Linked DNA regions of Homo sapiens: all the other regions are linked to region 2. The links come from fine-mapping of genetic effects on gene expression. A gene starts in region 2. Each other region holds a variant in brackets. All regions are shown on one strand. Distances are from middle to middle.

Region 1 (4,292 bases), 28 kb before region 2:
TCAAAGGTTTTCTTCACCCTAATGCACCTTTTATTTTTGAGACAGAGTCTCGCTCCGTCGCCCTGGTTAGAGTGCGGTGGCGCAATCTTGGCTCACTGCAACCTCCACCTCCTGGGTTCAAGCGATTCTCCTGTCTCAGCCTCCTGAGGAGCTGGGATTACAGGTGCCTGCCACCAGGCCTGGTTGATTTTTGTATTTTTAGTAGATGGGGTTTCACCATGTTGGTCAGGCTGGCCTCGAATTCTTGATCGCAGGTGATCCACCTGTCTCGGCCTCCCAAAGTAGTAGGATTACAGGCATGAGCTGCCATGACCAGCATAATGCAACTTTTATTATCAGAAATTTATAATGTATCTTTAAGCACCCTAACCTCTAACCACAAGCTAAAATTTATTAACCTTTGTTCACAATCCTGAATTAATCCCTATTTACTGTGATGACAGTCTGAAATTAAAACTTTTGAAAAGAAGAATACCTAGGCCGGGAGTGGTGGCTCAAGCTGTAATCCCAGCACTTTGGGAGGCTGAGGCAGGTGGATCACCTGAAGTCAGGAGTTCGAGACCAGCCTGGCCAACATAGTGAAACCTCATCTCTACTAAAAATACAAAAATTAGCCTGGTGTGGTGGCGCACACCTATAATCCCAGCTACTCAGGAGGCTGAGGCAGGAGAATCGCTTGAACCCGTGAGGCGATGGTTGCAGTGAGCTGAGGTGGTGCCATTGCACTCCAGCCTGGGTGACAGACAGAGACTCCATGTCAAAAAAAAAAAAAAAAAAAAAAAAGTAGAATATCTAGATCTCCCATAATGTGTCTAGAGACATTGAAACTTCATGTAAATTCCACAGAAATAAGATCTTTATCAATCTCCCAATATAACAATTATAAGGCGTTTCTTTCTCTCACTGGAATCACCAATGGACAGCTCTGGCACATGCTGTACAGACATGTGCTTCCCTACTCTGCCATCTTCCGTAAGACATGTTCCCTTGGCATTTTTTTGACAAAATTGCAATGCCTTTACTTTATTTGCCACATCAGTCAGTGAGTAGTCCTCTACAGAGCCTTTCCTAATTCCCATTCCTACCAGCCCCTCCTCTCCACTCACACCTTGACTCCCGTAATTCAGGTCCCCATTTCTCCTTGCCTGGTGACACCACCACCTTCCTAATTGGCTCTAGGCTGCCTCCTCCTTTCCACTTTCCACACAACTGACAGAAGAATCTTTCCAAAACATTCTAGAAGTTCTTTCATAAACAACAACAACAAAAAAAGAAGAAACACAGATCTGGCTATGCTCAAGGCTGCTGAAAACCCAAGGGCTCCCTGTGGCTTTCAGCATCAAGTTCAAGCTCCTTGGCCTTACACGTGATACTGCTATTGAGCCTGTTCCTCTCCGCTTCTCCAGGCTCAGCTCCCACCCCACCTGACATGCTCAGAAACACCCTTCTGGGTTTACTAATTTGTCTCTCTCTCTCTCAGTGTATTACAAACTTTTCCAAAGCAGGGACTGGGACTATGCCTGACTCGACTTTGTATTCTCAGTGCCTGGCATATAATGGGTTCTGAGTAGCTGCTTTTAAATGAGCAAATAAACTTACCAGTATTTTTTTAAATGACATGAAAATAATACACATTGTATATTAATATGACAAAAGAAAAAGCTTACCATGATTTTGCTGTTTTCTTCTTTGTCCAAATATTGATCACTGAACATGTGACATGAACCAAGCACTGCCAGCTTCCCACCTTGGTTCTATTGATGACAAAGCAGGGTCAGATACTCAAATCCGAAAGTGCATCTCATGTATCCTAGTACCCAGACACTTATTAGAATCATGCTAGCAACTGTCTTATATACTGAAGAGTGCCAATTCACACCCAGATTTTAAAGTTTAGAAATACCAACTATAGGCCAGGCGCAGTGGATCAGCCTGTAATCCCAGCACTTTGGGAGGCCGAGGCAGGCGGATCACCTGAGGTTGAGAGTTCAAAACCAGCCTGGCCAACATGGTGAAACCCCGTCTCTACTAAAAATAAAAAAAAATCAGCCAGGTGTGGTGGCATGCGCCTGTAGTCCCAGCTACTCGGGAGGCTGAGGCAGGGAAATCGCTTGAACTTAGGAGGCGGAGGTTGCAGTGAGCTGAGATCGCGCCACTGTACTCCAGCCTGGGCAACAGAGCGAGACTCCATCTCAAAAAACAAAAAAAAGAAAGACCAACTATAATAACTACTACACTTTAACCTGCCTCTCATTTTAGATACTTCTATATTTTTTTATTTGGCTTTAACGAAAACTAACATAAATTAATTCTACATTAGCTGGGTGTGGTGAGGCATACCTGTAGTCCTAGCTACTTGGGAAGCTGGGGCAGGAGAATCACTTGAGCCCAGGAGCTCGAGGTTACAATGAGCTATGACTGCACCATGCACTCCAGCCTGGGAAACCCTGTCTCTAAAAATT[A/T]AAAAAAAAAAAAAAAATTAAATTGATTCTACAGCATTTTCCTATTGTTGTTTATCTTATAAACGAAGATCATAATTTTAAAGGGAAAAAAGATAAACTCAAAGACAGTCTGTACAATTAAAGATACCTATGGGTACCAAAAAAAAAAGTATTTAAGTAAGATCCAAATAGAAAGCTAAAGCAGGCTGAGTGCAGTGGCTCACGCCTGTAATCCCAGCACTTTGGGAGGCCAAGGTGGGCAGATCACCCTGAGATCAGTAGTTCAAGACCAGCCTAGCTAACATGGGAGGCAAAACCCTGTCTCTACTAGAAATACAAAAATTAGCTAGGGTTGGTGGCACGCACCTGTACTCCCACAGCTACCTGGGAGGCTGTGGCGGGAGGATTGCTTGAACCTGGGAGGCGAGGTTGCAGCGAGCTGAGATCGCGCCACTGCACTCCAGCCTGGGCAACAGAGTAAGACTCAGTCTCAAAGAAAGCTAAGGCAAGGCTGGGCGCAGTGGCTCATGCCTGTAATCCCAGCATTTTAAGAGGCCGAGGCGGGTGGATCACTTGAGGCCAGGAGTTCGAGACCAGGCTGGCCAAGATGGCCAAACTCCGTCTCTATTAAAAATACAAAAATTAGTCAGGCATGGTGGTGCATGCCTGTAATCCCAACTACTCAGGAAGCTGAGGCATGAGAATCACTTGAATCTGGGAAGCGGAGGTTGCAGTGAAGCAAGATCGCACCACTGCACCCCAGCCTGGGCGACAGAGTGAGACTCCGTCTCAAAAAAAAAAAACCAGAAAACTAAGGCACAAGCATGAGAGAGTCATAAAATAATGACTGGTTAATAAGAAAAATTTTCAATACTTGTAACTTTTAACAAATAAAAACAAAGTACTTTTTCCTATCAGATAAATAAATATGAAAATATGATATAAACAGCGCTAGTCGAATTTTAGTGAAATAAGTTCTTTCACACATTGTTGCTGAAACTATTAACATATGCAACAAAAGCAGTCTGAAACATAAAAAATTCTATGCCCAGTTGTGTAGTTATAGTCACAAAAAATTAGAAATAAATCCAAATGTTCACAAAAAAGTAATTCAGAATGATGCAACCTTCTTCAGCAGTTAAATTTCATATTATAAAGGGTTTTCAGTAACATGGGAAAATGCTTCCAACACATCATTCGGTTAAAAAAAAAGTATACTATAATTTTTTTCCCATTTTTAGAGATAGGGTCTCACTCTGTCTCCCAGGCTGGAGTGCAGTGGCACAATCATGGCTCACTGCAGCCTCGAACTCCTGGGTTCAAGTGATCCTCCTGCCTCAGCCTCCCAAGTAGCCAGGACTACAGGAGCATAACACCACACTCAGCTAACTTTTTCGTAGAGACAGGTCTTACTATGTTGCCAAGGCTGGTATCAAACTCCTGGCCTCAAGTGATCCTACCTCCTTAACCTCCCAAAGTGCTAAGATTATAGGCATGAGTCACCATGCCTGACCTATACTATAAATTATATTGCTATTCTACTTTAAAGCTTACGAGGCAAATAAATAAAAATAAGGCAAAGCAAAAGTAGGAGAAAGTGAATAATATGTCAACCTGGGCTGTCTTAGAGTCTTGGAGTAGTGCGATGGGGGAATTTTTTTTCTTTTGCTTTATCTCTGTATTGTTCATTTTTTCTACAATTATTGTAACATTTCTACAATATTACTTTTTTTTTTTTTTTTTGGAGACAGTGTCTTGCTCCACTGCCCAGGCTGGAGTGCAGTGGCATGATCTTGGCTCACTGCAACCTCCGCTTCCAGGGTTCAAGTGATTCTCTTGCCTCAGTCTCTG
Region 2 (4,000 bases):
CATGGGTAGCTGGGACTACAGGCGCGCACCAGTGTCCAGCTAATTTTTAAATTTTTTGTAGAAGCAAGGTCTCGCTATGTTGCCCTTGAACTCCTGACCTCAAGTGATCCTCCTACCTCAACCTCCCAAAGTGCTGGTTTACTGGCATGAGCCACTGCACCCAGTCGGGTTTCATAATTTTCTAATTGATCATTAAACAAACATTTTCATAAGTTTATTTGGCTTCTGGTAGTTTTTTTGGTTTGGTTGAATTTTGCAGGCCATATAGATTTTAAATTTTATAGAGTTAAAAGTATGAATCTTTTCCTTCCTGGCTTCTGGATGACATGAAACACTTAGAAGAGTTTTTTGTCATTCTAAGATTATAAATAAATTCAACAATGCTTTACTTCAGTACTTCATGATGTAATTTTTTTTTTTTTTTGAGAGAGTCTGCTCTGTGGCCTAAGCTGGAGTGCAGTGGCACGATCTCGGCTCACCACAACCTCTGCCTCCCAGATTCAAGAGATTCTCGTGCCTCAGCCTCCCAAGCGGCTGGGACTACAGGCGCCCAAACACACCCGGCTAATTCGTGATGTAATTTTTTAACATTTAAATTTTAGTCCATTTGGAAATTATTGTGGTGCTCAAAATGGGCTTCATTCCTTTTTTTTTTCCTTCTTTTTCAAAGCATAGTCTTGCTCTGTCACCCAGGCTGGAGTGCAGTGGTGCAATCTCGGCTCGCTGCAACCTCCGCCTCCCAAGTTCAAGCAATTCTCCTGCCTCAGCCTCCCCAGTAGCTGGGATTACAGGCGCGCGCCATAGTAGAGACGGTGTTTCACCAGGTTGGCCAGGCTGGTCTGGAACTCCTGACCTCAAGTGATCCACCCGCTTTGGCCTCCCAAAGTGCTGGGATTACAGGTGTGAGCCACCTCGCTCGACTGGTTTAATTATTTTCTAAATTGCTAAAAAAGCTGCCTGACCCCAATTCATCTCTTCAATGCTGATTTGAAATACAGTACCACCTCGCCTATATAATAAATCCCTATATATAAATCGCTCTTATTCTGAGTTCTAATATATTTTATCTACCTGTAAGCTCCTGCTGAGTCCCAAACTTTTTAAATTAATTTATTTATTTTCAGAGACAGGGTTTCCTTTTGATACCCATGCTGGTCTCTGACTCCTGGGCTCAAGGGATCCTGCCGCCTCAGCCTACCAAGTAGCCAGGACTACGGGCCCACACTGCTGCACCCATCTTCTATGCTAGTTTAATTGCTATACCTTTATGTTATAATATCTGGTGGTTCTGGAGAGCTAATCTCCCTTATTAGCATTAATTTTAGAATTTTCCTGGCTACTTTCACATATTTATCCTTCTTTAAGCACTTTAACATCATTTTGTCCAGTTGAAAAACTGCCCCCTCCATGGTCCCACCACCGTGATACATCTATCTTTTTTTGTTCTGTTAGTTCAGCCCCTGGTGAGAGTAGCAGGTCTGCGTTCCTGTACTGTCAGACTTAGCCAGAAATGCATTTCCTTAATAATAGTATAAGGCCTTTAAAACTATAAAAATAACAAATATTTGGGTAACGCTGCCAAACCATTCTCTCGCTTTCTCTTCAATAACATTACCAGTCAAATCAGTATTTTCCCACATGAATACCGAGGGGTCGCAGCCACGACAGAAGAGAGATTAAGACTGTACGATTCCTCGTCCCATGCTCTTTCATAGTCAGCGGAACGACTAAACACCTGCACCACCCGAGGCCGTGGAGATGGGCGCCCAGCCGGGGCGCCAGGAACCCGGGCTACGTCCGCGCCCACAGTTTACTTCACCCCGGGGGACCCTGGATGTTCTATGACCGGCCCAGCGGCCTCGAAGAGTGCGGCGAGTCCCTCGCCAGCTCCCAGGCCGCACCAACGCCCCAGCCGGCCCACCACTGTTGGCGCCCTTTACCTGAGGCCCAGCGACCACCGCTCACCTGACGCCGCCCAGCATCCCGCGGCCAGGTATCCAAGGCCGCTTAGTAACCGGAGAGGCGCGTCGGTGCGCCGGGAGGCGTGGCCCAGGACGCAGCGCTAGCTCCGGCCGACGTGATGACGACAGCACGGAAGGCGCCTCTCCGTCGCAGGCGTCAGGGGTAGGCAGCCTGACTGATGTGGGGCTGTACCATTTGGTGCATGAGGGGCAAATCCAAACATAAGGAGAATTAACTTTTCACCAAAAATAAACCCATTTAATTTTGTTCTTTAGTATCAATTACGAGTAAAGACTAATAACAACGGTAGGACCCAAGTGCCCAAACTTCGCTCCACCCACAGGGAGGAGAATAGTGAAGGCTTCCAGCGCGGGGGGGTTGGAGAACGCCCCAGCTTCGATTCCCAAAGCGCAGGAGCAGAGTGGAGCCAGGCGAGGGCGGGGCCGGGCGGAAGGCTGTGCTGGACTATTAGGAACTACTTAACGGAAAAGGGTGCGCAGGTTTAGTGTTGAGAATGATAAACCGTATAATTCTGTTTTATTAACTCCGCATCTTTGCTTGCCATGGTACTAGGCTTGAGCGCCGGCGAGCATGGCGGGGAGTTAGAACTTGAATAGATTCTACAAAAATGTGAAAACTATGAACTGTATTAGGGAGTCTAACGACTAAGCTGGTCAAAAAGGCGCCCCTGTTGAGCAGAGATTTGAAGAGAGAGTGGTATTCATTAAGGCAAAGGCTGGGGAAGGGCGTTCCCGGCAGAAAGAACTGCTTGTGCAAAAGCACCACCAATACAGGTTGCCCTGCCATCGCCATTAAGATGGGAAACCAGAAGCCTGCAACTACCAACAGGCCACCCGACTACCCAGGAAAGCGCTCTGTGCCTGCCTTTAGAGGTGTGTGGATTTGTGAACAACGCTGCAGCAGCCTGGAAGACCCAAACTGAAGATTGCAGAGAGCTCTGACAGTTTTTATTTACATTTATGTTTGTCTTCGAATCTAGGATATTAAAACACATACAACTCGTGTTGCTTTCCACAATTTCTGTCACTGGAAATTTTAAAAGTGGAGACGGGCCGGGCGCAGCGGCTCTCTCCTGTAATCCCAGCACTTTGGGAGGCCGAGGCAGGTGGATCTCTTTAGCCCAGGAGTTTGAGGCCAGCCTAGGCAACATGGCGAAACCCGGTATCTACTAAAAATAGGAAAAATTACCTGGGCGTGGTGGCGCGCGCCTGTAGTCCCAGCTGCTTGGGAGACTGAGGTGGGAGGATTGATTGATTGATCCTAGGAGGTTGAGGCTGCAGTGAGCCGTCATGGTGCCGCCGCACTCTAGCCTAGGCAACACAGTGAGACCTTGTCTCAAAAAGAAAGTGGAGAACAGGGTGATTTGAGAATTCTCTTTGGTCAGATGAAGTGGCTTCTGCCTGTAATCCCAGCATTTTGGGAGGCCAAGGTGGGAGGACTGCTTGAGGCCAGGAGTCTGGGACCTGGGTAACAGTAACACCTTTTCTCTCCAATAATAATAGTAATAATAAATAAAAAAAGAAAATTAGCCAGGCATGGTGGCACACACCTGTAGTCTTAGCTACTTGGGAGGCTGAGGTGGGAAGATCGCTGGAACCCAGGAGTTCGGGCTGCAGTGAGCCATGATCGCTCCACTGCACCCCAGCCTGGGCAACAGAGTGAGACTCTGTCTCTTAAAAAAAAAAAGTTCTCTTCTTGGGGATGCTGTATTTTGGTGCAGAATTGGGTGAATACAGTTTGCAGTTAGGGTAATAATGGAAATGAAGTATTCTCACTGAAGAGAGAGTAGGCCGTCCCATTTGAAGGCTGGGACAAATCTTGGGATCTTTCTGCCTGATATGCAGTCAGTGTTTGCTACAGCACCTGCCCAGAGCATTTCTCCCACTGTTAGAGATTGCAGAAAGAGTAAGAGTTTTGGCCGGGTGCAGTGGCCCACGCCTGTAATCCCAGCACTTTGGGAGGCCAAGGCAGGTGGATCACTTGAGGTCAAGAGCTCGAGACCAGCCTGACCAACATG
Region 3 (4,292 bases), 23 kb after region 2:
CCAAGTCAGGCCCTTCCACATCTCTTATTTAATCCTCATGACAACCTTCAAGGTACAAGTGTCATGCTAGTTTCATGTAAGAGGAAGCTAGGAGGGGTCAGAATGGTTAGGCGACTTGCCCAAGGTCATGTAGCTTATAATTGGCAGAGCTGGCATTTGAACCTGCGTGGTTCAAAGATTATGCTTTTCCATCAATCCAGGCGATATGATGATACGGCTGTCAGACTGAGCTCAGGTTAGATCCACCCATGGGCCAATGTTTTTGGACTATTTTGCTGGCATGGAAAGCCCTTCACTTAGGGATGCAGGACAAAAACCCCCCTCTTAGCATCATTCTGAAAGGCAAGAGATCACGCAGGTTAAATCTGGGGTCACTGACTGGAGCTCCACTACATTTTGCATCTTGACCAGAGAGACAGAGTGAAGCCCAGGAGGGAGCTCTGCTTGTCCCAGCTGTGCTTCTGGGTCACCAGGTGGCCTTGAGGTCTCTGTTTACCACAGTGACCAGTCAATCCCACCCTGTGGCCTATGGGAGCACTAGAAACCTTGACCACGAGCTCCTCTTAGCATTGACCTTTCCCGGGCCTATCAAAGTGCGTCTATGGGCAACTCTGAATGAGGAAGGCAAGAAAGCATTATGGTGGGGAGTCTAACAGACCTGAATTCAAGTCCTGACTCTACCAGGTATGCGCTGGGTGGCCTTGAGCAAATGATTACCTCCCTGAACCTCAGTTTCTTTAGCTACAAAATGGGTCTATTGTAAGATGAAGTGAGATCATTCCAGAACTTGGCATGCAGTGGGCATGTGGGATGGACAGCTCCCAGCCGAGAGCCAGCCCAGGGAAGCCTCCCTGTGGGCCCACCCACCTCTCCCCCGTTGACATAGTCGAGCACGAAGTAGAGCTTCTCAGGTGTCTGGAAGGAGTAGCGCAGGCCCACGAGGAAGGGGTGCCGCACGTTCTTCAGAAGCACACTGCGCTCTGCCATGATGTGGCTCTGCTGTGGAGTCACAAAGAGAGGGGTCCATGTCACAGCCCACAACAGCCTCTTTTATCCCGGCTCAGCCCATATAAGCTTGTGGGTGGGGGTCATCCTACCCAGGACTTTCTCATGCCCCTGCTCAAACACCCACAATGGCTCCCTATTGCCCTTAGAGCCAGGCCCAAGTTCCTTCCTTAGTATTCAGGGCTCAGGGTGGTCAGCCTCATCCTAAGCTAGTTCATGTGGGCACAGCTCTAGCCCCTGTATCAGAGCTTCTTGCCCTTGGAGTGAAAAGCAAAGCATGTGTGATGCCTACATAACTGAGTTCCTAAGGGAAAGAAGCCACACACTATCCATATTCATGTATTTGCTCATGCTATTTCCTCTTCCTGGATGTCGCACCCTCTTTTCAGACCATCAGAATCCCACCATCAAGGCCAGCTGCACCGCTGCCTCCCTCAGGAAGACCTCCCATTCCACCCCCCACGGAGACCTTGTTAACATTAATCTCTCTTTTCTCTGAGTCCCCCAACCTCCTATGCAATCCTCTCTCTGGGCCTGCTCTGGCCTACTAATGGAGTCAGGTGTTAAAGGAACTCAGGTCAGCTGAGGCATCAAGAAATCCATGATGGGGCTGAGTGTGGTAGCTCATGCCTGTAATCCCAGCACTTTGGGAGGCTGAGGCCAGCGGATCTCTTGAGGCCAGGAGCCTGACCAACATGGCAAAACCCCATCTCTACTAAAAATACAAAAATTAGCCAGGAGTGGTGGCGGGTGCCTTTAGTCTCAGCTACTGGGGAGGCTGAGGCATGAGATCACTTGAACTCAGGAGGCGGAGGTTGCAGTGAGCTGAGATGGTGCCATTGCACTCCAGCCTGGGTGACAGAGCAAGACTCTGTCTCAACAACAAAAAAAGAAGTCCATGATGTGCTGTGCATGTAGCTCATGCCTCTAACCCCAGCACTTTGGGAGGCTGAGGCGGGAGGATTGCTTAAGCCCAGGAGTTTGAGGCTGCAGTGAGCTGTGATTGCACTACTGCACTCCAGCC[A/T]TATGGCCTGATGGCATGAAGGGTCTTCAGAGAGAATAAAGTGGGGCTCCACATTATACAGATGGGGAGCCTGGCACTTGGAGCAGGCAGAAGACTTGTCCATCGTGGAGCCTGTGTTTCCCAGGGGAAGGCAAAGCCAGGCTGGTTTTCCTGAAAGCCCTGTGGTGAGATGGCTTGGCCTGCTTTCTTTGAGAAGGGCCAGCATCCTGCGTACCACCTCCCCTCTACCCTTTGTTGTGACCACTTCTGCACCCAGGCCCATGGACCTGTCAGAGGTGGGACCCATCTTTGAAAGCCACCCTAGGCTGCGGCTTGAGAAGCAGAAGAAGAAATGCCTGTGCCCGAGCTCTGGTACCTCTTTCTTCTTTAAGATGGACTTTTTCTGTAGTACCTTCACTGCATAGAACGCCCCATCAGACTTGCGCTTGGCCAGTAGGACCTGAGAAGAAACATGAATTTGAGGCCCTGTAGGTGACTTTGGACTTCCCAACAGCAGTACAAGGCCTCCCGCCTGCCCCTGCTTTTGTCTGCAGGTGCGAGTGCTCTCTCTTCATACATACAAGTGGCAGCAGGGGCTGGAAGAGGCTGCAGAAGGGAAGACCCAGGCTTCCCACCCTCACCAAGTCACTCACCTTCCCGTAGTTCCCTTTGCCGATGACTTTGAGGAAGTCGAAGTCCGTGGGCTGGGCACTGGGGGAAGAGGGAAAAACACGGATCAGCATTTGCAATGTCTGGAAACCTGGTGCCTGAGAACAAACCTGGGCTTCTTTTTAACTTTAGAATGGGGAAATACAGAGAGCCTTCCAGGAGCCATGCCTCCTCACCCCCGAAGAACCCCATGTTCTCCCAGCCGAAAGAGGGCTTGTAAGATTCACCCTGGCCCCAGGGGAACTCAAATTCAAGTTAAACAACAGGCAGAGGGTAGAGATAAAACCAGACATACTGCACAGAAGGCCTGCATAGAAGGCAGGGTTCTGGTACCCAAAGCCCCTCAGAAGGGCCTGAAGTGTGGGGAGTTGCTAACAATGCAGACATTTAGGTGGCATTGCAGGAAGAGGGTTCAGCATGGGCAGAGGCTGGGGAATTTGTGGGAGATAGAGCTGGGGAAAGGTCCTGGGCCCAGATGGCAGACAGTCTTGAATGCTAGACCAGAGAATCTGGATTTTATTCCCAAGGCAAGGGGAGCCAGGTATGAGGGGAGTCAAGTAGGAAAGGTGCTTGAGGGACCAGAACTCACTTTGGGTTGGCTGAAGGCCCCAGGTTGATGTTCCCATTGGCCCTGGAGGGCTAAAGAAAGAAGTGATTATGATCAGCAGATCCCTACTCCTTGGCTACCTCCCTTTCTCCTGGCCCAGGCCCTGATCCCTTCTCCAACAACTCTACTAGGCCTGCCTGCCTTTTTCTTTTCTTTTTTTTTCACCTGCCCGCCTGCCCGCCTCCCTCCCTCCCTCCCTCCTTCTACCCACCCACAAATCCACTTATCCACCATCTTACCCACTTCTCAAAACAGCCTTGGGAGGCAGCTGGCTGTTGTGCTAATTGAATAGGCGAGGAAACTGAGGCCCAGAGAGGAGTTGCCCAGGGTCTCACAGGCAACCAGGTTGGGATACGACCCAGGTGTCTCCATGACAAATCTCATGATTTTTCCAGTTCATCTTGAAGCCCTATTTCAAATCTCTACTCTATTCACCCTGCAAGTGGCTCATTTCTATGTGCTCGCAGTAACCCTCTCAGCCCCTGACATTGTCTGGGACCCACAGATTTCCTTAGCCTCGGGAAGAAGTGAGCCCCCGATGATGGGTGGGGGACCAAGAACCACTCACCTGTGGACTTGGGGTCCCAGCTGGGCTAGAGTTCATTCTGTAGCAATGATCAGGCAGCTCTGGGGGGACAGGGAGGAGCAGGCATGAGAGAGTTGGTGTTGGGGGGTCAGCTCCGCCCATCCAGGGCTTCAGGCACCACTGCCCTCTCCATCCTCCCCTACCTGTGCACCTGCCACCGCCTGAGGGTTTCCTACCCGAGGTAAGCAACCCCTGCATGGATGGAACAAGAAATGATATCCCCTGGACCCAGACTTCCTAACAAACATCTCAGAAGGGATAAAGGGGGATGGTCAGGGTGTGGCCCCTCCCAGGCTGATTCTTTTCAAGAACTGGGGACACCCAGGGCAACAAGACCCCTGTGAGCCAGGGTAGCTCCAGAAGTCCAAGATGGCCAGGGCTGGAAGGATCTTTTCAGGGCATAAAGTCTGAACCCATCCCCC

Alleles and levels. Positions count from the first base shown, and alleles are read on the strand shown. Sizes are in standard deviations (SD) of each study's normalised expression. Not every link is listed here.
In carriers of allele T in region 3, the expression in prefrontal cortex of the gene that starts at base 2,058 in region 2 tends to be lower than with A alone (large effect, 0.81 SD a copy in BrainSeq).

Evidence for each region. PIP is the estimated chance that this variant, and not a neighbour inherited with it, causes the effect.
Region 1: its variant is the best candidate, but not a certain one, in a credible set for the expression of IFT52 in whole blood (TOPMed, PIP 0.76).
Region 3: its variant is the best candidate, but not a certain one, in a credible set for the expression of IFT52 in prefrontal cortex (BrainSeq, PIP 0.52).

Annotation. Positions count from the first base shown.
Region 1 is chr20:43,616,402-43,620,693 of GRCh38, reverse strand. It overlaps IFT52 (intraflagellar transport 52), which reads right to left. Exons shown (of 14, transcript NM_016004.5): 8 at 1,668-1,754. Among named protein-coding and RNA genes, the nearest start is that of IFT52, 28 kb to the right of the region's middle. The variant A/T (reference allele first, on the strand shown) is at 2,463.
Region 2 is chr20:43,588,995-43,592,994 of GRCh38, reverse strand. IFT52 (intraflagellar transport 52) reads right to left here and starts at 2,058. Exons shown (of 14, transcript NM_016004.5): 1 at 1,941-2,058. RefSeq lists an enhancer at 1,867-1,936.
Region 3 is chr20:43,566,092-43,570,383 of GRCh38, reverse strand. It overlaps SGK2 (serum/glucocorticoid regulated kinase 2), which reads right to left. Exons shown (of 13, transcript NM_170693.3): 2 at 3,853-3,911; 3 at 3,267-3,316; 4 at 2,662-2,719; 5 at 2,385-2,468; 6 at 868-999. The coding sequence starts at 3,888. Among named protein-coding and RNA genes, the nearest start is that of SGK2, 9.2 kb to the right of the region's middle. The variant A/T (reference allele first, on the strand shown) is at 2,030.